Regions from separate parts of the Homo sapiens genome. Here region 2 is linked to region 1. Evidence: fine-mapped expression QTL. A gene starts in region 1. The other region holds a variant in brackets. All regions are shown on one strand. Distances are between the middles of the regions.

Evidence for each region. PIP is the estimated chance that this variant, and not a neighbour inherited with it, causes the effect.
Region 2: its variant is fine-mapped to the expression of ILKAP in whole blood (TOPMed, PIP above 0.99).

What each region holds. Positions count from the first base shown.
Region 1 is chr2:238,198,208-238,209,969 of GRCh38, forward strand. It overlaps ILKAP (ILK associated serine/threonine phosphatase), which reads right to left and starts at 5,488. Exons shown (of 12, transcript NM_030768.3): 1 at 5,292-5,488. The coding sequence starts at 5,346. RefSeq lists enhancers at 4,475-4,534, 5,497-6,369 and silencers at 4,905-4,994, 5,115-5,684.
Region 2 is chr2:238,150,560-238,162,321 of GRCh38, forward strand. ERFE (erythroferrone) reads left to right here and starts at 8,411. Exons shown (of 8, transcript NM_001291832.2): 1 at 8,411-8,646; 2 at 11,035-11,157. The coding sequence starts at 8,449. It overlaps KLHL30 (kelch like family member 30), which reads left to right. Exons shown (of 8, transcript NM_198582.4): 8 at 255-2,388. The coding sequence ends at 506. RefSeq lists an enhancer at 2,723-3,222 and a silencer at 8,389-8,458. The variant T/C (reference allele first, on the strand shown) is at 7,179.

The DNA of each region.
Region 1 (11,762 bases):
AGGAAACTACTGATTAGTCAAAACCTTAGATTTTTTTTTTTTTAAATTGAGACAAGAGTCTCGCTCTGTGAGCCAGGTTGGAGTGCAGTGGTGTGATCACAGCTCACTGCAGCCCCAACCTTCTGGGCTCAAGCAATCCTCCCTCGTCAGATTCCCGAGTAGCTGAAACTACAGGCATACACCACCATGCCCAGCTAATTTTTTAACTTTTTGTAGAGACGGGGTCTCACTATGTTGCCCAGGTTGGTCACGAACTACTGTACTCAAGCAATCTTCCTGCCTCAGCATCCCAAAGTGCTGGGATTACAGATGTGACCCACTGCTCCAGGCCCTTACATTCTATTTTGAATAAACTGAAATTCAAAGCATTGGGGGCTGCAATCATTGGACAAAGTGTGACCCTGACCTAAAAATCTGGAAGAGGCCCCTCCCCTAATCTTAAAAATATTAGAACCCTAATAAGAATACAAGACTAAAAATGTCCATTAATCATAGTTAATCTCATCTAGAACTTTTTTTTTTCCTCAGTTATCTACATTCTGGAGCTAAGTCTACTGGAAGTTATATACTATGCTGAGAAAAATACCCTTGGGTTGATCATATTCAGGTTAAAGGTTGCTGTATCCAATAAAGTTAAAAAAGGATGTTAAAATATTTTGGCTAAATTGTTTTTTATACCTCAATTTTTTCAACTATAAAATAAATCCAGGTGTTTTCCAAACACCACAGAGGTATTATCAGAAAAAAGGGGGGACAGGTTCCGCCACACCCCCCAACCACAGTATGAGTTTAGTGTATCCTTTCCACTTTCCTTAATGCTCATGCACATGGACTCATGCATTTTAATTTGTAGAAGACAGAGTCATACTCTACACAATACTCCACATATAGTGTTCACATAACCCATCAAGGCATGCTCCAGGCCAACACACCCAAGTCTAATTCATCCTCTCCAACAGCCACACATGGGAAGCATCTCCACTCATTCGACCAGATCCTTACTGATGGGTTCAAGCTTTTCCCAGTTCTTCATATGATAAGTGACGCCACAATCAACAATCTGATACATGTATTCCTGCTTAATCTGCTAGACTGCTCGTCAAAGGATATTAGTTTAAATCTGATAGAAGCCAAAATCTGTTCCCCAAAAAGTTGTAATTTTCACTCCCAAAACACTTTATGAGAAAGTCTACTTCGCTACACATTCACCAATGTTACCAACTGTTGCTAATCTGATGGGTGAAAAGGTAAATAGTTCCTCAGCAACTTTCTGTTGATGGGCCATTTGTATTCCTTACCTCTGAACTGGGAGGATACATCCTTTGACCATTTTTCTAGTGGGTTTTATTTTTTCCCATCAATTCTGTGAGCCTTTCTTATACCCTTAGTAATGTATATTGCAATTATTTTCTCGGTTTGTCTTTTGCCTTTATAGTATCATTTGTCCTGCAGAAATTTTAAATTTTTACATAGTCAAATTCACTTTTTTATGACTTTTTTCTTGTTCAACCCTGTAGTTTTACAATCTGTTTTCCTCTAATACCTTAACCTTTATGTTCAAATATTCTTCTTTTTTTTTTTTAATCGTAGAGACAGGGGTCTCACGAAGTTGTGCCAGGCTCTTCTCAAATTCCTGGCCTCAAGCCATCCTCCTGCCTTGTTCCCCCAAAGCGCTGGGATTACAAGTATGCGCCATCGAGCCCAGCCTCCAATTTTTTTAAAGTATTTTTAAGATGGTGTGGCCATCAAATATTTTATTTCCTCCTCAACAACTGACCATCAATTTTTAAAGTACTAGTGTAGCAACCAAATAAGTAAAAGAACCACCCTATAAAAGTGAAATCAAGTTACTGGCGAAGCAATTTTAAACCATGACACCTTCAACTGACATACATGGATTGTCAATATAAGCTGCCAATCTTAAAGACATCAGGTCGGCACTTTTATGGGTATGACATAGGAAAGTTCCATTTCTGCCTGATATGAACAAACACTTTTTTTTAGGTAAAATATATACATCTCTCCTTTAAAAAACTTGATTCATTCAGCAATTAAAACTTTTAAGGGCTTGGATGAAAACTACTAATTTAGCAAAATACCTGAAATATTTAGTGCATTCTATGTATTTTTCTAGATTATAAACATTTAAGAGGTTTAGGGGTGGGAACATTAGATGCAACGTTTAAAACAAAAATAAAAAGATCTAAACAAAATATTAATACATTTGATGTGATATAAGCAGTGTAGTATTCTCCCTTTGGACACTCAGTGCTTTCCCATAATTCATTTAAGACTGCGTTTTTCCACTTTTAAACAACTGTTAATGGCTCAGCCAGGCACAGTGGCTTACCACTGTAATCCCAGCACTCTGGGAGGGCCAAGGTGGGCAGAACACTTGAGCCCCAGGAGTTCGAGAGCAGCCTGGGCAACATGGCAAAGCCTTGTCTCTACAAAACATACAAAAATTAGCTGGCTGTGGTGGTGCGCACCTGTAGTCCCAGCTACCAAGGAGGCTGAGGTGGAAGAATCACCTGTGCCCACGGAGGTCGAGACTGCAGTGAGCTGTGTTTATGTCACTGCACTCCAGCCTGGGCGACACAATGAGGCTGTCTCAAAAATAATAACCCTGGCTAACATCTATAAAACACTATACATTCTACCCCACACTATGTGCAGCACCATACATACTGTACTAATTTGTACAGTAACAGTGGCAAGTGTCACCCCTTTTTACACATGTAGGAATAGCCACAGAAGGCACAGTTAGTAAGCGAAGAGCTGGATTCTAAACCAAGTAGTCTGGTTACACTTTCTGAACAACTTTTCTTGCGCTCTGGGAAAATAACGAGGTCTTTTATTGTTCACTGCATTAGAGATTTGTGGTACCCACATATCATGTGTGAGGGTCATGATGCACAGTTTAGACTCATTATTCCATTCACTTTAGCAATCAATATGATTTATTCAAAGTATGTTTTTTTTTTTTAAATCACAGTATTTTCACAAGTATGTGAAACCAGATTCTGTTCTTGTACAAACGATTTTAACCTGTCAAATCTCATCTTGTTGGTTGTAGCTAACAGCCTGCAATGATAACTATGGATCCCAATTGTCACTCATTTTAGTACTTATCCCTCTCAGCTTCCAATCATCTACAAATTCTGAGATCTTCTTCGTTTTAAAGCTATTTTTAAAAATACACTCAGCCAAGCAGGACCTGTTGACAATGTCAGTGCCCTCCTGGCAGATGGGGAGCAGCTGACCAATCCAATCTCAGGGTGGTCAGCAGTTTAAACACCATGCACCCCCTCTGCCACCCTTTCAGCTCAGTCAAGGTTGGAAACTGAGTTTGGAAAAAACGGCAACAGGATGTACCTTTCCCACTGTATCTGGCAAAAGGCTGCTAAGGTGCCAACCTATGAGATTCTGAGTTGCCAGGTTTTTTGTCAGTCAAGGGAGCCTGCTCCTGAGCAGAACCTAATTAATTGCAGGTAAAAAGCAATGGAGATTTTAAGACTCATAGGTTTACACGCACACTGGTGAATCCAAATGCTGTCCCAAATATATTCAGATAGAAATTATACTCCATTGACAAGAGAAAAAAGACTGCTACACAAATCCAATTTTTACCCACAGCTAAAACCGTGGTTATTTTGAAAATGAATGGCTGAGTCAAGTTCAAAGACTCCAGGACCAGTTACTGAGATGCTCTGTACCATCAGAACGGTCAGTGGGGGCAGGGCACGGTGGCTCACACCTGTAATCCCAGCAATTTGGGAGGCCGAGGCGGGCGGATCACCTGAGGTCAGGAGTTCAAGACCACCCTACCCAACATGGTGAAACCCCGTCTCTACTAAAAATATAAAAATTAGCCGGGTGTGGTGGTCGGCGCCTGTAATCTCAGCTAGTAGGGAGGCCTAGGCAGGAGAATTGTTTGAACCCGGAGGTTGCAGTGAGCTCAGATCTCACCATTGCACTCCAGCCTGGGCGACAAGAGTGAGACTCCGTCTCAAAAAGTAAAATAAAATAAAATGTTTTCTCGCCCAGAATTACTGCAAATCACAAGCCTGAACATCCTTGGAAGCTCAATTCAAACACTGCCTCCTTCCCCAGTCTCTCGGTGCCCGACAATCCCTCCTCAAGAGTCCTCAGCATTTCCCACAGTCATTAACTTTTGCCAGTTTTAATTACCGTAATTAGTACCCTTCAGAAAGCAGCTCTTAGAAAGCGAAGGCTGGGCCTTACTCACCTCCGTCTACCCTACAACAGCAGCTCCCAAACCACTGGTCTCCAGCCCCCGCTGGGTTGGCCTGGGGATTTAGTAACAGATTCGGAAACCCCACTCTCAGGGATTCGGATTTACTGGGGCTGAGGTGGGCCTGGAAATCTGAACGTCTTAAGTTTTCCAGGTTTTCTGCCCCCAAGTTAAATTTTGTAATAAGGCCCTAAACTACAACATCAAGCTGGAAGTCTTGCATATGAAATATTCACGCGTTTTGACAGATGAAACCCGGAGACTGTAACCCACAGGACGCAGGGATTAACACAGGCCCTGTTTCAAGCTGCTAGGATGCTGAGCTCAAACCACAGCCCACAGGGACTCCCACTGGCAGGGGCCAGCGCTTAGGAGATGAGCGGACCCCTTAACTTCAAGGAGAGGGGGAACTTCCCGTGGACCAGAAAAAAAAAAAAAAAACTACTGTTAATTATCACAAAATCACAGGATGACAGAGGAGGCATCCTGTCTTCCAGGCTTCAAAAACACGAAGGATTAAGATGGTGATTAATTCAATCTCCAGTGCAAATAAAAACGCCAAGCCCCTGAACTTGCACCGGCCCGGAACGCGGCCGTTCCACAGCCCGCGGGTGAAGTGCGGCCCGGAAGCCGCGGGCGGGCGACGCGCAAGGCAGCCCAGGCCGCGGGTGGAATCGGGGCGCGGGGGCCCGCGGTGCCGCCGGGCGTTCAGAGCCGGTCCCTCGGGTCGGCCCACGCGGTCGCGCCGGCGCCTTTCACCGCCACGCAGAGGGGCCGTGGCCACGACGGCTCGGCCCTTTCCTTCCTGCGTAGCGAAAATGGCGGAGCGGCCTCTCCGAGCTCCGCGAGCGACCGGGCCTCCGACAGGGCCGCCAGTGGGCCGGACGGGGCCTGGCCAGGCAGGAGCAGGCCCCGTGCAGCCCGCGCCGCCCGCCGCCTCCCAGCGCGGGCGCCGCCTCAGCCGCCCCGGGCCTCAGGCCGCCCCCATCCCGCCTGCTCTCCCTTCCCTGGCCGGCCCGGCGGCAACGCCGCTTACCGGCAGCCGGGCGCGGCGAGCGCTCGGGCTCCGGCAGGTCCCCGAAGAGGTCCATGGCGGAGGCTGGGTGGAGGCGGCAGCAGCGACAGACACTCAGCCCGCGAGCAGCGGCCGGGCTCCACACCCCGGGCGGGCGGCAGCAGCGGGCGGGCGACGGGCAGGGGCGGCCGGCGCCGTCAGTCACCTGCAGGGAGAGTCCCGGACGCCACCAATCGGCGCGCGGCGTGGCCCGGCCGCCCCAGAGGGCTGCGCGCGGGCTGGGCGGGGCGGCTGGGGGCGGGGCGGTGCGCATGCGCGTGGGCCCCTCCCGCGCCCCGACTGCGAGCCGGGCGGACGGCGCCGTCTGGGCCCCGCGGTGTTTCCCGCCTTGGCGAACCCCGGGCCCCTCCTGCTTTTCCTTGGCTGGGGGTGTCCGATTTCTGTCAAGTTTCGTTGAGTTCCTGTCCAAGAAGCCCTGTCCAGAGAGAAACGTCTGAGCTCAAGGGCAGCCCCTGATGCCTGGGAAGGCTTTCTGGAGCTCTTGCCATCTCTTCGGCTCGTCCTTTCACCACGGCGTGCCTGGTTTCTGGCCTGTTTTAGAGACTGAGAAACCGAGGCTTGGATGGAGCGGCCCTGGGCGTCAGGACGGAAACCTCAAAAGATGCCGGAGGGAAAGGAGGCATTCCCTGACTTGTCTGCACCCACTGGTGTCTGTGGGGAGCGGAGAAGAGGGGCTCCTCCTTAATGGTGTCCCCCTCCATGCCTGTAAAGAGAAAGGCGGCCACTGACATCGGGGAGCTGGCCTGGTTCTGCAGCCAGGACTTGGGGTTGGTCTGGCACAAACAGCTAGGCCTGGGTGTTCTCTTTGAATGTGAACAATTTCATAAAACACCAACATCAGGCCGTGATACAGATCAAGAGAAAAAAACAGACCACTGTGTAATCAAGTGTGAACACAGACAAAACAGGAACACTGTCCAAGCCACAAAAGTGACCACATTCCCCTCGTCTTGGCCAATAAGAGTGATTGCTGCTTCTTTACCATTACATGTTTAGCCTTTGTCTCGTCCTCCTGCCGTCTAGATAAGCTTCATCAAGATATCCAATCATGGAATCCTCCTCTTCCTGACATCCAATCCGGAGCAAAGGCCCGTTTCCATAAATGTTTCCCCAAATCAACTAACACAAACCCAAATCTTACACCTCCGTTCCAACATCGTTTACCCAAGTTCCCCAGGTTATGTGGTCTCCCTCCATGCAAAGAGTTTTCAGCCCAGTTCATTCTGGGGCAGATGTATTTCTGACGCTCTCTGGCTGTAGGACATGGAGGGAGCCCAACAAGGCTTCATGCCTCTCATCTGCGTGGCTTCTCACTAGCAACCGTTTGAGATATTCATGCTGCCTCCTCCATTACAGCAGAAACACTCAAGTAACAATGCTTGTAACCGTTAAAGAAAGAGGAAATAAATACAAAAAGCGGCTCAACATTAAAAGGTTTATTTCAGAGAATAAACCTGAGAGGGGATTCTGGCCAATTTCGATCAGGAGCGCTCTCTCTTACAGACTAAGCATTCTCTCTTACAGACTAAGGATATTTAAGGGTTTTGGAAGTGGGGGAACGTTTATTGCAGGGTTGGAATGTCTCTGGTCGGAGGGGAGGCTATTGGAGGAGAGGTTATTTCAGGGTTAGCATGTTTCTGGTTGAAGAGAGGTTTATCTTAGGGTTGGAATATTTCTGGTTATGCTGACATTAGCCGTTAGGCTGATGTTTTGGGGTAGGATTTAGGTGGTTTTTTAATCAAGGGGAACTTAGAAAGGTGGTGTTTGTCCAAGATGGCAATGCTCCTGCTCTATCAATCCAGTCTCTATAGTTATGAAAAGGACAAGGGGCAGCGCATTTTTTCTGGCTACTTCCTGCTGGGGGAGTGAGCAGAGAGTTCTTTGGTTTCAGATTGATTGTAGGAGTAACGCTGTCTGTAGATGTTTTTGGGTAATTGTCTGTGAGATGGCCATGATCCTGCTGGTTAAAAATCTTTGAAAAAGGTGGCCAGGCGCGGTGGCTCACGCGTGTAATCCCAGCACTTTGGGAGGCCAAGGCGGGTGGGTCACGAGGTCAGGAGATCGAGACCATCCTGGCTAACATGGTGAAACCCCGTCTCTACTAAAAATACAAAAAAAAAAAAAAAATAGCCAGGCATGGTGGCGGGTGCCTGTAGTCCCAGCTACTTGGGAGGCTGAGGCAGGAGAATGGTGTGAACCCAGGAGGCGGAGCTTGCAGTGAGCCGAGATCTCGCCACTGCACTCCAGCCTGGGCGACTGAGCAAGACTCCGTCTCAAAAAAATAAAAAAAACTTAGAAAAAGGTTAATTAAGCAGGGTAAGAACATTATTCCTAGGCATATTTTTAGGAGAGAGCCCAGGAATGGGATGACCCATATTAGGACTTTGTTTTTAAACCAGTAATTTATTTGGTTGTCTTGTTATTCTCTTAGCTTTTTAGCCCTTTCTTTAAGTTTTTTAGCAGCGTCTCTTACTAGGCCCAACTGATTGAGATAGAAGCAACATTTTTTACCGAATGAGAGGCAGAGGTCCCCTCTTTCAGTTGTTATAACATCTAATTCCTGTCTATTTTGGAGGACTACTCCAGCCAAGGAGTCTACTCCAGCCAAGGAGTCTAGTTGGCCTTGGACTCTTATAAGGCTTTGGGCCATATGCTCTAATGAACTCTGCAGTTCTGTTGAAAGAGATTTCAAGTATGTTAAGCAGGTGGCGAATCAGCCTGCTCCCAACCCAAGCCCGGAGGTTATACCTAAGGCAGCCATTAAAGGAATGACGTGGATGGCTCTCCTCTTCCTAACATATTGGATGGATGGAACGGGTAAAGATTGATTAGGAGGAACTAGTCCAATGGAGGGAGAAAGATAAACTAGGGTACAGGTTCTGGTCTGGTTGATGGGGAGACAAAGAAATATGTGTTGAGACCACACAAAAAGAACAAGCCTTTATTGTAAATACAAGCAGAGATATGGACAGAAAATAAGTGAATTAAAGATGAGGTGTTTGTTCTTTCCTGTGGTTCATTACTCCAGGTGGACAAGGAGGAGGCCTGGGAGACACCTACTATACTAGAGGTATAGGAAGAGTTATTTTTTACAGATTTAATGCGGTCGGATGCTGCACTATTGATATTGAGCCAAGGAAAATTGTGGGCACTAGGAGCAGCACAGGTTAGGCTGGAGGCATTGGCTGAGGGAAAGGCTGTCAAACGAGCCAGCTGCAGAAATGCTCCGTTCGCTTCAGGTGATACTTGGTAGTTAGCCTGGTTAGTTTGATGGTCAGAGGGGTGTTTAACAATGATAGTGTGGTTGCATAGGTTAGATGTTAAGGACCCTACAGGGAAATTTCCCTCCGAGGCTGAAAAGCAAAGTGAGGCTCATTATAAGAGGAGGAGTGTGTTTAGTTATGGGCCCTTCAATGGGAGGGCCGTGGGGCTTAAGGCGCTGTAGGGAGTTATCCTAGGTTTGAAATAATTTGTTGGCCTGATCGGCCCTGGAAGTGGGATAATCACCGACTAGAGTGTCAGCTCTTTCAAAAAAGGAAGCTCCTTTTTGGAGTTTATAAATTAGGGTTGTGTTTCCTGTTAAAAGGTCATGAAGGAATGTAGGAAGGGCTGTGTAAGCTAAGGAAGACAGCGATAAACACACCCAGCATTCCAGAGCAAAGGAAGAGTTAGCTTGCCGCAAGAGAGATTGTGTAAGGTTTATAGAGCGTTCTAGTTTGAGAGCAGTGAGGAGTGGTTGTATTGATGAGGTTGATGTGATTAGGGAATTTATATTGAAAGAAACAAGCAAAAAGCGAAAAAAGTTATTTGGGTAGGAGTAAAGTCCTGGAAAGTTCCTTGAAGCCATAGGTCCCATAGAGCAGTAACGAGCTGATCAGGATGTATAATGGGAGCTTCCTAAGGGCACCACTGAAGGTCTGTAACAAGGTTAGTTAGGAAGTGATGAAAGTTTGGGAGAGAAAGAGACATAAGCGGCTTATGTGGATTTCTCCTCCTTTTCCTCAGGGATTTGGGTGAGGCGAAGAGAAGTGGGTCCTGGGAGACACGAGAGAAGGCCGAAGGGGTTTCAGACTTGGTTGTTTGGGTATGTGGTGAAGGGAAGTCTGTTTTCTTGAGAGAAGTACAATGAAACCAGCTGGGGAGTCCCTGGAGTTTCGGTGCTGTGGGTGTGGTAAGGATGATCTGGTAAGGTCCCTTCCACTTAGGTGTGAAGCAGGAATTGAGGGTAGGACTGGGGTATTTTACCAGAACCCAGTCTCCTGGCTGTAGGGAGGGATTAAAGGAGTCGGTGATGGGTTGTGGCAGGTATTTGTCAGCATATTCCTAAATGAAATGGCAGATGGTATGTACAAGAGGGGAAATGAGAGGGATTGGTGGAGGTGGGGCTTGACCCTGAGGTGGAGCAGAGGGGCAAATGGTCTCCCATACATGAGTTCAAAGGTGCTGAGCGTTAGAAGTTTACATTGGAGCACCCGAATTTTTAGAAGGGCTAAAGGCAAAAGTGTAACCCAGTCTTTATGTGTTTGGTGTGAGTACCTGGTGAGGGTGTTTTTGTAGAATGCCATTCATTTCTTCAACCTTTCCTGAAGATTGAGGTCGAGAGGGGAGGTGCAACTTCCAGGTGATTTGTAGGGCTTGTGCAAGTGTTTGAATAATTTGAGAAATGAATTCAGGGCCATTATCAGATTGAAAAGAAAGAGGCACCCCGAACCTGGGGATGATTTCTGTTATTAATTTGGAGAGTAGGAGCTCGTTTGTTGGTTGTGGGAAAGGCCTCGACCCGTACCAAAAAGGTATCAACCAGAACTAAAAGAAATCAAACCCTTTTTACTGGGGGCATGTGGGTAAAACCAATTTGCCAGTCCTGTTCTGGAAGGTGTCCCTTGGATTGATGGGTTAGAAAAGAAGAGGGTCTAGTGTTGAAGTGGGGTGAAGCTTTTTTGCAAACAGAGCATTGATGGGAAATGGCTTTTAACTGTTCCTTTATGTCTGGGGTTATGTATATATGGGAACTTAAGAAATGCTGTAGAGGGGAATGGCTAGTGTGGAAGAGGTTGTGAATGTCCCATAGAAGAAATTGTTTTTTCAGGGTCAAGTAGGACTAATTTGTTTTGTATGAACCAGTATGGGGGTTTAAATTGTCTGCCCCTACTGTGATTGGTTGTTGTGTTTGGTGTTCTGGATAAAAGGAGGGCATATGTTGTGTGAGGGGAAATAAGTATTGGGGAATTGGGTCGTTGGCTGAGGCGTGTTTGGCCCAATAGTCAGCCTCATGGTTCCCTAAAGGAATGTGGCTTTTGTCTGATTGATGTCCTTTGCAATGGATAACCACAACCTTTTCTGGAAGTATAGCTGCCTTTAATAGATGATGGATGAGTTTTCCATTAATGATAGGGGTTCCCTTAGCTATGAGATAGCCCTGCTCACTCAAAATTTGGGCATTGGAATGGATAACGTTACAGGCATATTTAGAATCAGTGTATATATTCACTTGTGTGTTTTCTGCTAGAGTTAGTGCTCTTATTAGGGCAACTAATTCTGCTTGTTGGGAGGATGTGCCCAAAGGCAAGGGGGCAGCCTCTATGGCTTTCTAGGTGGGAGAGAGTGGGTATCATCATGATATCCTTTCAATGATGGCATATCCTGCTTAGAGGGGAGAGTGTTTTGATGTGCTCCCATCTATAAACCAATCTGGGTCTCCTTTTATGTGAGTGCAAGTAAGGCGGTGATACATAGAGAACTTCCAGTTAGATCAGAGCATGAGTGTTGGTCGGGGTCTAAAATTGGTGTTGAAGGTAAAGAGTGGCGGGGTTAGTCAGGGAGCATCTATGAAGAGATATAGAGGGTTGAAGGAGAGTTGAAAGTAGGGCTTGCCTGCGAGAGGATGAGCTGGAGGTGAGCACCTTGTGGCTGAGCATATCTTGTAGACTGTGAGAAGAAAATACCTGAAGAGGTTCATAAAACATGAGATTTTGTGCCTCAGGAATAATTATTGCTGCTGTTGTGACCAAAATGTTTAAGCAAGGGGGCCAGGTTTTATAAATGGGGTCTAGTTGTTTTGAAAATATACCACTGGTTGGAGGGAGTTTGCCATGAGTTGGGCTAATAGACCAAGGGCCTGATTATGAGAACTGTGTAAATACAGATTAAAAGGTCTTAGGGGGTTTGGAAGGCCTAAAGTGGGGGCCTGTAATAACACACGTTTTAGGTGAGAGAAAGCATGATAAAGATCTGGGGTGGGAGTGAGGAGTTGGTCAAGATTTTCTTTTGTGTGTTCATAAAGGGATATAGCAACAATGGCAAAATTTGCTATCCATATTTGGAAATATCCCACTAATCCGAAGAAGGAAAGTAAGTCCCTTTTTGTTTTAGGAAATGGGATTTGTTGAACACCTTGCTTTCGTGCTGACAGAATTTGGAGTTATGATAAGT
Region 2 (11,762 bases), 48 kb before region 1:
CTGCAGGGGTTGGAAGTGTCATCCCAAGGGCTGAGGGTCAGAGAGGGAAAGGGACCTCCCCACCAAAAGAAGAGTCTGAGGAGGCTGGAGGGGCTGCGGTGGGCTGCCCAGGGACTCTGCGCTCATGCCCTGGAGGGGATCTGGGCCAGGTGGCTGGCTGTCCTCTCTGCCACTCCCCCGACCCTGCTGAGGGCACCCTCAGCCCTGCTCTCCAGCTCCCGCCCACCGGACGCTAACCCGCTGACCGTGCACAGGTGCAGTCACAGCACAGCCTGCATGAGAATGGCGCGCTGGTGCCACTGGGTGATGCGCTGTACGTGACGGGCGGCCGCTGGCAGGGCATGGAAGGTGACTACCACGTGGAGATGGAGGCCTACGACACGGTTCGGGACACCTGGACCCGCCACGGCGCCCTGCCCCGGCTCTGGCTCTACCACGGGGCCTCCACCGTCTTCCTGGATGTCTCCAAGTGGACCCAGCCCTCCGGCCCCACCCAGGAGCACTAAACCAGGGCCAGGGTCCCCGGGGAGGAGTCCCCACAGCGGCCCCTCATCAGCCTGTGGAACGGCCCCTTTCATTTTCGCTTATTTGTTCACTCGGAGCTACCATTCCTTCCAAGCTGCGCTCAGGCCACCAGGGGTGATCAGACGGCATGGCTTGGAGGACACAGCCTTGGTCTCTGTGGCCACCACACTAAACTCTGAGCTGAGCAGTGACAAGGGCCTGAGTGCCAGACGCTGGCATAACAGGGACAGGAAGCTCTGCTGCCCCTGGGGTTCCCGAGACCTCAGAGAGGGGAGCCGGGGGCCGGGCCAGCATTCCCAGAGCTTGCGAGCCCCACTCCTGCCCCTGGACCCCAGCAGGGGCTTTTGGAGCAGTTGCATGAATGTGGGGTGAACACGGAGCGTCCCAGAAAGCTGAGGCTGCTGGGGAAGGCAGGCCCCGGAGATGGGATCAGCACCAGGTCCTCGTGGGCCTGCTTCTGCCCAGCTCACGGCAGCGTAACTGTGGCCAGCCACCTCCCCTCTCTGGGCTTCAAGCTCCGCGTCCACCACACACGGGGCTGGCTGTGTGGGCTTTGGGTCCCCACTCAGGCTTTGCATGTTGGTGCTGTGTTTCTGCTTCTGTGGACAAAGGAGGCCCCCACCCATCTCTTGCACCCAGAGGGCGGTGCCCACAGAGGCACCAGGAAGGAGGGAGGCAGGGCGTGGGGCGGGGCTGGAGGGTCCCAGGGAGGTGAGCAGTTTTGCTCTCAGAAGGGATTGCCTCCGTCTCTGTGTGTCAGAACAAAGGCTCTTCATTAGAATGGAATTTCCCACCAGGGGACGACTCTTGGGTGCATTGGTGGCAGCCTCCTGAGGGTGAGGGGTAGCATCCGATGGGCCCCTGCCAGCATGCAGCCCGACTCCGGCTGGCTCAGGCTCCGAGTGGCTTCTCCCTCATCCTGAATGAGGCACCCACCTTTGCAGCTAAGGAGACAATGAAGGACTCTCCCTGGGTGCCCAATGGCGTGTCCCTCCTGTCACAGGCTCCGCCCTGGGACATGGGGCTAGAAGTCAGGAGTCGGGCCCGGCCAGGCACAGGCCCTGGTGTTGCCCCAGAGGCCCTGGGCAGCTCCGGTCTCCCGCCGGATCCAGGCTTCCTCTCCAGGACCAGCCCCTGGGTTCCTCCTTAACACCCCCCGCCCCTGGGGACCAGAGGGGCCTCTGACATCCTTGGGTTCTGAGGACGGAAACCCCTGAGCCTCTTGAGCTTCTGTAGGTAGGGATCTGCTTTGCTCCCAGACCTGCCTCTCATAGCTTTTTTTTTTTTTTTTTTTTTTTTTTGAGACGGAGTCTCGCTCTTGTCGTCCAGGCTGGAGTGCAATGCTGAGATCTTGGCTCACTGCAACCTCCACCTCCCGGGTTCAAGAGATTCTCCTGCCTTAGCCTCTCAAGTAGCTGGGATTACAGGCACTCGCCACCACGCCTGACTAATTTTTGTATTTTTAGTAGAAACAGGGTTTCACCATGTTGACCAGGCTGGTCTTGAACTCCTGACCTCAGGTGATCCGCCCGCCTCAGCCTCCCAAAGTGCTGGGATTACAAGGTGTGGGAGAAGTGAGTTGACCCTGGAGGGCCAGACAGAGTGGGGCCTCTGGGTGCTACCAAAGGAACAAGAGCCCAGAGCTGAGGAGACCTTCGGTGGCAGATGGATTGGATGAAGCAAGGGTGAGGGTTTCTGGGGCCCTGGGCTCTGTTTCCATGTGGAAATCTGAAATGTTTTCTAGACAGTGATGGAAGGAGGTCAGCCAAAGGGCTGTTTAAAAACAAAGCCTCCATGTAAACCATTTCTGCAAGAATATTTTAAAATAAATAAAAATAAAACTGAAGACATGAAATGTCAAAATAGGCTGGCTTTGATCACAAAGTAGCCAAAAGGGCGGCGTGCCAGAGCAACGCCTGCTGTCCACCCTTGCACACCCTATGGGAATATGGGCGGTCCTCGGGTGGAAGGAGTGGGCCTCTCCAGGGCCTGGCTCCCAGCTTTGAGGTGCCAAAGTGCACCTCGTCCGATCAGCTGGGCTCCTGATTCAGGGGGCCATCGCAGCCTTCAGGGCACCAGGAGGAAAGGGGCGTCTGCTGGGTATTGAGGTGAGTGGCTAAGGAGAGTTTCACGACGGCCTCTCCCCATGCTGTGGGCAGGGTGAAGGGAGCCCAGTGGCTGGAGAGGCATCCCAGGACAGCAGCAGTGGGAGTGCCACCCCCCCCACCCCGTCTTGGGAGAAGGGAAAGGGCAGACGCAGACTCCAGGGAGCTGCTGAGAGAGGGCCTTGGCGGGGGAACGCAGCCACCACCCCTGTTGTCCAGCTGGGAGGAGGTGGCAGAGTCCATCTGCCCTCTCTCTCTGGCCTGCCCCCTGTCTCCCACTAGCGCCTCCTACAGGCCAAGCCCAACCAGAACCCAGAGGGAAGAGAGGCCATTGACAGGCTGTAGTGGCCACCTGGGGACACAGAACAGGTGGAGAAGGTGGCCAGGGCACCAGGACGGCGGCCAGAAGGTCCGGCACACGTCACCCACTTGAGAGCTTTGCACGAAGGGACATTAATGCACTCACTCACCAAGCGACAGCCATAGGGCAGCCAAGGTATCCCCTTCCATCATCAAAATCCAGGACAGCAAGGACTCATTAGAAGGCTTGAGGCTAATATGGGCTTCTAGAAAGGGGAGCGCGTAGCCTTGGAACATGTGCAAATGCCCACAGGGGTGTGCGGGCGAAACCCACCTCCAGGCCCCATGTGCTCATGTCCTCCAGGTAGGTGCGTGTTGTCTTTCCCATAGAGGATGCTGGGTAAACTGAGGCCCCTCAGCCTTCAGTGAGCACACAGGGCCCTCAGCCAGGCCCAGCACTGCCAACTGTATCTCAGCTCCCCCGGGTCCCCAAGTAAGCTGGGGCCTAGGCATGCTTCCAGCCACTTCCACCGGACTTGAGTTTTCCAACACCTCACAGACAGGCCCCTTTTATTATCTGGCATCTTCTCTATTCAGGCAGGGACAGTGGTTGCTGGGATCAGGCCATTGACACCCTCATGTGACTGTAATTAAATGGACTGGTCACCTGACAGTTTTCCATAGTCAGTATAGACCATGACATAGCTTGGAGATCTGTCCCCTCCGAATCTCATGTTGAGTCTGTTGAGTCTGATCGCTGGTGTTGGAGTTGGGCCTGGTGGGAGGCGTTTAGATCATGGGGGCGGATCCCTCAGGCATGGCATGGTGCAGTAACGCTGGTGCGTTCACGGAGAGCTGATCGTTAAAGAGCCTGACACCTCCCCTGCTCTCCCTTGCTCCCTCACTGTGTGACACACCTGCTCCCCTTCCCCTGCCACCGTGAGTGGAAGCTTCCTGAGGCCTCACCAGAAGCAGATGCTGGCACTATGCTTCCTGTACATCCTGCAGAACTGTGAGCCAAATAAACCTCTTTTCTTTGTAAATTACCCAGCCTCACATTTTCCTTTATAGCAAGAAAACAGAAGGATACAGGCCACTACTCCAGTTGGTTGGGCCATCAGTTGATCCAGCTGAAAGCATGTGTATGGATGGAGAATGTGCCAATGGCTTAAGGAGAGAGGGCACAGCCACGTACACAGGAAAGATGCTGCACCTCCGGGGCCGTGTCATTCACCGTCCCTCCCCAGTGCCCGGCGTGGTATCAGCTGATCGGTCTGAAGTGTGGCTGCTTCTCCCGGACTCTGCAGCACCAGGTACGTGGCAGGGCAGCCAGGTGTGTGGCTGTCACTGAGACTGAGGTAGACTAGGACAGGAATCTCCATGGGGGAAGTATCCTGTTTGGAACAAACCCCAGGAGACATCATGACTCCCTCAGAAGCCAAGACGATTTTGATCACAGTCACATTTAAGAATGTGATTCTTTCCAAAATGGCATTGCATTCAACTGAGAGGAGAGCTAAAGATGATTATTTTAATTAATCTATTAAAAACATGTAGACAATTAGCAGAAAACTCAAGAGACCCTCTGGGCAGGAGTGAGAAAGAATTGTCTCCCGAGAGACCCGAGACTGCCCACACACCCATGCAGGAGGCCACAATGTATTCCGAGTGCTCGGCCTGGTGCCGGCACGTCATGGGAACTGCACAACTGCACAAATGCTCACTGAACTGAACTAAATCTGTAGGTTCTCCAGAGCAACTGACCTCAAGTTGTAGGGGCCAGACCTGGATGTGGTTTCATTTATTGGCTCTGTGACCTTGGGCCAATCCCAAGATCTGAGCCTCAGTTTCCTCATCTGTGCAATGGGGATAATCACACGATTTGCAAATTAGATGACGTCGTGGGCTTGCAAGGCCCAGTAAACAGCGAAGGCTACCCGCCTGGGCCTCTGGAGGCCACACAACAAGCTGACTTCACGGTCCCACTGTTTTCAGGGCAGAGGGAGGTTTTATTCCCATGACTTCATCGGCAAAGGTCCTTCCTCTGGAGGAAGAGAGAAGAGTGGGAACAGCTTGGCTGCATCAGGCTGCTGGGAAGCCAGGCCCGGGCCGTGACATGAGGGCCCAAGAATGAGGATTAGATTTCAGCCAGGCGTGAAGGCGCATGGGGGAGGCCACTTCCTGCTCCAGTGATCCCCGTTCTGTGGCCATTCATTTAGTTCTTCCATCCTGGGATGTCCTGGCTCACCCCGATGCCAGCCCCACTTCTGACCCATGGGCTGCTCCTGCAGGGGGAGGCCCCCATTTCTGCTGCTCCTTGATCTGCGCAATTCTTTGCTAAGCTCCACCTTCCTCTGAGTGAAAGCCACTTTGAAATGTGAACGCAGACACATGCAGGGGCCCCACCTGAAGACCCCCGGCCTCTCTGCTCTCTGTCCCCAACCCAGGCGGAGTCATCCTCTCAGGATAGTGTTACAGGAGGCTGCCCCAGCACCAGAACCGATTGGATTTGGGCCTCTGGCAGGGCCCATGACATCATGAGGATTGTTCATTGTTTGGGAAAATAACTTTTTCACATGGCAACGGCTCCTGTCCTCAATGCTGGCCTGAAAGCTGGGGCCCCCCACTGCGAAGTGGAATGACATCACACTAGTATCTTAAGGGTAATGTTCCCCAAATCAGGGCACCTCATCCCTGCGTATCCTCAGTGTTGCCGACGGTGGCAGAGCCTGAGCATCACCTTCCCAGGGCTCGGGTGGGGCCAAACAGCATCCACCTTGAGCCATAGCTGCAGCCAGGGCCCCAGAGGGAATTCAGACCTGTGGGATGCCCATTCCTCACAGGGAAAAGATGGGGCTATGTTTTCTGCAGTAATGCTCCAACTCATCACGCACCTCTTATTTCACACCAACTAGAATAGGAGGAACCCTAACAAGCCAAACATAAGGCCGTGAAGATGTAACCTGTCCAGTGGGCAGGAGGGCCTCTGCAGCCCCACGCCGGCTCTGCCCATGGGCTGCGTCCTGGGCAAGCCGCCCACCTCTCTGGGCTAATTGGTGGGGAATCAAATGAGGTGCTGGTGTGGATGAGCTTCTCCAGAAGCAAGAAGGTGCCATTCACACAGCTGCAACTCCTGGGGACAGGAGCCCCTCTCTACCAGCAGAGTACAGGAGAACATGGCACGCCAGGGTCCTGTGGTCCACAGATACAGTCCCTCTGAATAAGTGAAACCGAATGAAATGTTAACACATTACACCGAATGTGCATGTCACATTCAGACATGTCATGACAAAGTTCCACACATCAGGCTTCTTAACAGACATTCCAATAGAACCAGACATGAAAACCCACCAGAGAAACCCTTCACTCTCTGAGGGCCTTAAGACATCTCCCTCATATGCGTGATTTTGGGAGCAAATGTCCTTAATTGTGACAAACCTGCAGAATGTTTGCAGGTGAAATAAGTTCAGATATCTTGCTGGGCACATATGACCTAAGCCAGTGTTTCTCATATTTCTCAAATGTGTCTTAAAGACTTGCATGTTTTATAGGAATTCAAATGTTTTCATTGTATTGGTCTTTTTAAAAAAAAAAATCATTTGTGGCTTTTTGTTGAGACGGAGTCTCGCTCTGTCACCCAGGCTGGAGTGCAGTGGTGTGATCTCGGCTCACTGCAACCTGCATCTCCCAGGTTCAAGCAATTCTCCTGCCTCAGCCTCCTGAGTAGCTGGGATGACAGGCGCTCGCCACCACACCCGGCTAATTTTTGTAGTTTTAGTAGAGACGGGATTTCACCATGTTGGTCAGGCTGGTCTCGAACTCCTGACCTCAGGTGATCCACCTGCCTCGGCCTCCCAAAGTGCTGGGATTACAGGCGTGAGCCACCGTGTCTGGCCCATTTGTGGCTTTTAAAGGCAGGACTTCCCTCTTGTGTCCTCACCTGCCATTGAAAGACATCTTCACAGAGTAAGTCCATGGGACTTACCCCTGCCGGGCAGATTCTCATGCTGGGCAGGGTATGTTTTTCTTTAAACGTCCTCCCCACCCAACTCTACACCATTCCCATATCCTATGGGAAAAGGGGTGGAATCACAGGGAATAATTACCTTCTGATCCCATGCTTTTCCTAAAGTATGAAGTATTTCCTGGTTTCCCCACCTGCCAGGCATGAGGCCAGCCAGGTGGAACATCGCATGAGTGGCCAGAAAAGGCAGGCGACAAAGGCCAGCTTGCATCTGAGGACGGAAC[T/C]TGGCCCATCCCCAAGCCTGGGGGGCACCACCTGCGGCTGCTGGTGCCCCTTTCAGTCCCTGCTGCCACATCCTGTGAACCAGGACAGGGTAAGGCCTCCTTTCCCCAGCGGGCTCTTCTCAAAAGAGTTCCCCGGGAACAGCAGCCCTCGGTGTGAGTGTAAGGTACTTTTCCAGCGGAGCCTTCTCCCGTTCTTTAACAAAAAGCACTGTGTACCCACCAGGGGCAGGTGCCTCGGGGGTGGGGCAAGCGAGCCAAGTGTGCGACCCTCCTCGGCTTAGCGTCCAGTGGTGGGGCAGATAGTCAAAAGGGCATGCGATATAACAAAGCCAGGGGTAGGGTGGGGCTGGGGCTGGCTCTTTCCTGGTAGGGCCGCCCAGAGGCCTCTCTGCCACCTTCTCCGAGGCCTGCAGGGTCTGGTCCACCTCTGGGGGCACTGATTCCGGTGGGCGGTGGGCAGCCTGGCTTCCGGTCTGGTCTGCCCCCACACCCCCGCTAGGGCACGATAGGGGTCAGTTCTCCCAGCCCAGGCCCCGCTCAGCCCCACCAGGGCAGGGCGGCTGTCCTGAGTTGTTTCTTGGCTCCCTGCGTCTTCTGGGTCCCGGCAGGTGCGACAGGTGGGGAAGAACAGTGAATCCCTGCGCTCAGAGCACGCCAGCCATGGACGGAGGGCGGCCTGGAAAGGGGAGTTCCCGCCTGGGAAAGGGGCGCTGAGAAGGGGCCCTGAGGGTCTCCCGGCTCAGATTTGCTCCACCTGTGTCATAGAGGCCTGGGCCTTGCGGGGCGCAGCCAGGAGAATGGGGAGGGGGTACCTCGGGGGTCCCTGCAGAGGACGTGGGGGACAGAGCGGGGAGAAAGGATGCCTCGAGCCGTCTGGGAGGAGGCAGCGCCTGGCTCCCCGCAAAGAAAATGGGGTCGCGAGGGCCGAGGGTCCAGGGCTGGGAGAAGGGGCGCCTCGCTCCCCAGGAAGCAGAAGCGCTGGACAGCGCGAAGGAGGGATCCCAGAACCAGGAGTTGCAGGGGGGACGCGCCCAGCAGGGGAACACCCCTCGCTCTCCCTGCCCTGCCCCGCTCCCCGTGCCCCCTCCCCCACTCCCCCTCCCCCGCCCGGACACTCCCCCCATCCCCATGCAGCGCGCACGGGAGCCGGGAGGGGGCGCGGGCGGGCGCGCGGTCTCGGGCGAGGCGGGGGATTCAAGCGCGTTATAAGGCGAGGAGCCCGGGGCGTCCGAGACGCCGCGCTCGGAGCCGCGAGGGAACCGCCGCCCGCATGGCCCCGGCCCGCCGCCCCGCCGGAGCCCGCCTGCTGCTCGTCTACGCGGGCCTGCTGGCCGCCGCCGCCGCGGGCCTGGGGTCCCCGGAGCCTGGGGCGCCCTCGAGGAGCCGCGCCCGCAGGGAGCCGCCGCCCGGGAACGAGCTGCCCCGGGGCCCCGGGGAGAGCCGCGCGGGGCCGGCCGCTCGTCCGCCGGTAAGACGCCCGGGCCCGCTCCAGACCCAGCCCGCGCCCGCACGCCCCGGCTCGGGGCGGCGGGAGGCGGACGTGGAGGCCGAGCCCGCCCTCACCCCCGAGGGCTGCTGCATCGCCTGGCACCGGGGCTCCGGGGCTCCGCAGAGACTCAGGGCCGTGTAGACGCCGCCCTCAGCCCGGCGGGGCAGCCTTGACTTTGGCTTTGGGGTAGTTTGACTTAAAGCAAGGTTCTACTAGGTCGGCGAAACCCCCCTTTTCTTTTGGGACAGAAGGAAGTTGGGAAATAGATAAAGTGTAAATAACTTGATTTGAGGAAATTGGGAAGAACGCATTTGTAAAAAGTGTAAGCGAATTACTGCCACCGCCCCCAATCTATTTGGTGCAATTATCTGGAAAACAAAAAGTGTTTTCCTGCGGATCTGGGGTCGGGGGGCTGTGCAGGGTGGGGAATGACATGTGGCTTTGAGTCAAGTGATCAGGTGGCTTTTGGCCGTGAGTGGGTGATCTTGAGCTCTGCCCTGCCCCCTCCTCTCCAGGGTTTTGGAGCCTGGACTGCTGAGCAGAGGGTGGTCCGGTTGGGGAGGTGTGGCCCAGGCCTGAGGAGGGGAGAACTTCAGAGGAGCCCTCAGTGTGGCCGGGCCTTGGGTCAGGGAGACAGGGCTGCCCCAGGGAAGCCGGGGTGGGCGGCCGGTGCTGTTTATTCTGAAGATGCTCAGGGGCAGTAGAGGGGAGAGCCAGGAACGCATCTACTAGAGAGGACAGGGGTGCAGCCAGGCCTGGGGTCCCCCAGAGTTCTCTATCCCGGCCCCATCACACCCAGCCACTTCCCAGGGACTGAAGGCACCCCCTCCCCGTGCAGTTGGCCAAACCACCCAGGTGGGCACAGCAGCCAAATGTCAGGGCACTGTCAGCAGGAGGCAGACGGGGCTCAGGGGCTTCCAGGTGGAGTTTTGGCCTTGGACCCTGTTTGTGGGGGACACAGTGACACCAGAGGTCCTCCCAGGCTCCAAGGCTTGTTTCTGAGAGACCCCTTGTGGCTGGAACCAGGGCAGCTGCCCAATACCCACCCCCATTGCTGGGGCCGTCTCCTGGGACGCCACCTTCTGCCTGTTACAGCTCTACCTGCAAACCACACTGGGGTCAGGGTCCGGCCACAGGCCACAGGTGCAGCTGGGAGGGTCAGCTGGGCACACCCCTCCTGGCCGGTGTGCGGCATCCTCGCCCCATGTTTCCACGGAGGGCACACAGGAAGTGGAAGAGGGTCCTGGGAGGGGGTAGAGGGGAGATCAGCCAGCAGGTGGTGCAGTTGACCCTCTAAGGCACAAGGAAGCACTGAGCAGCGCTGAGGGCCCTGGGCCCCTGAACCCTTTCTCCGCCCAACCACAGGCTCCTCGGCACCGCAGCCCCCATCTTCCCACCACAACACCCTGGCCTGCGCATTGGTCAGCCAGCTCCCAAAAGAAGGCCCTGCATCCCCCCAGATCAGCCAGGAACCAAAGGCAGTGACTTGGCAGCCGGCTTTGTCTCTGATAAAAGGGCCCAGTCAGCTCTAAAATCCCAGGGTCCTTCCGTCAGCCCCCAGCGTCAGCACCCATGACCTCATCTAAGCCCTCTTGGGCCGGTTTCCTTCCCAGCTGGCAGCCTTGCCTGGAGCCCAGATAGCCCAAGGCCTCTCCCAGGAAGGTCCCTCCCAAAACTGTGCTCAGTGTCAGCATCAGTCAGGATGCAGCGCGGACAGGAATGGGAACTTCCGGAAGCATCACTGTCCATGTGTCAGTGTCTCAGAAGTGCTGAGGAAATGAAAGTCTCACACAGAGGCCTCGCGTCATGACAGCTCGCCTGGTCCTCTCCCCCACTGGACTGTAACCCGAGGCAGCTGTGAGAGCTGAATTTGCCTCCTTAGAACTTCTGACACTGGGGGAGGATGGACAGAGGAGGGTTGGCTAGTAGTTGGGCTCCCTGATAATCACAGTTGCTTCTTCCTGAGCACCTATGGGTGCTCCAGTGGTCGGATCCTCCTGGTGACTGGAGGACGGTGTGATCACTGCAGCTCCTCTGGAGGAAGGAGGCCCAGCAGTACGGGGATTCACCCCGATATCCAAGCCCTGCACCCCATTTTCCCTCCAGGCATCTTGGGTCTGCCTCTCCCATGAGTGCCAAGTCCAGGCCGAGGTGTGGCCCGTTCCCTAGGAGTCATCCTCCACGGGCCGGGGGAGAAGCTGTGAGGGGTTGGGGCCCCTTTGGGAGCTGCCTTTGAGGGCACCACAGGTGACAAGGACCAGGGTCCCAGAGTACAGAAGGCCACACAGTCACCTCCTGCAAAGTGTCCCACCTGCTTGGTAGGAGCCCAGTGAGGCCAACCGCCCTGCTGGGCTGGCTGTGTTCCAGGAGCCCACCGCTGAGCGTGCACACAGCGTCGACCCCCGGGACGCCTGGATGCTCTTCGTCAGGCAGAGTGACAAGGGTGTCAATGGCAAGAAGAGGAGCAGGGGCAAGGCCAAGAAGCTGAAGGTGAGGCCGGCATCCCGTCAGTGCCAGGCCGTGGGGGGTTCCGCCTCCTCGCTCCTCATCCACTCCCACTCCTACATCCTGAACATTTCCAATAGCACACCCCTCACGCCTCGGCCTGGGGACAGAGAACAGAGAGAACCCAGGCAGCCCCAGGGGGAGCCCCGAGTTAGGGGCCTGGTCCCAACCATTTCCCCACACCCCTAAAATGCCAGGCTCTCCCTCTTTTCTCCTCCCTCTGCATCCAGGCCAGGGAGGCTGGGCTAGCCCAGGCTGTGGTGAGAACCTTGTCCACACTGGAGGGGCCTGCAGGAGTGCCTGGCTCCCAGGGACTAGGGGCACAGGGTCCCTCTCACCCTCACTCAGCCTTAGGTCTTGGCCTGGGCAGAAACTTGGTGCTTGGTCCTGGTGCTGCCTCCTGCTTGGAGCCCCCAAAATGGAAAATACGGGGTGTGGGCTTCTCTGTCCCCTGGGGGCCAGTATCACCTGCCTGGGATCTGAACACACGATGGAAGGCCAGCTCGGAGTGCATGAGGCAGGTGCACAGGCCGCGCTGTCCTCGTGGCCTGGCCTTCTACCTCTGCCCAGCCTCCTGGCCCTGCCCTAAG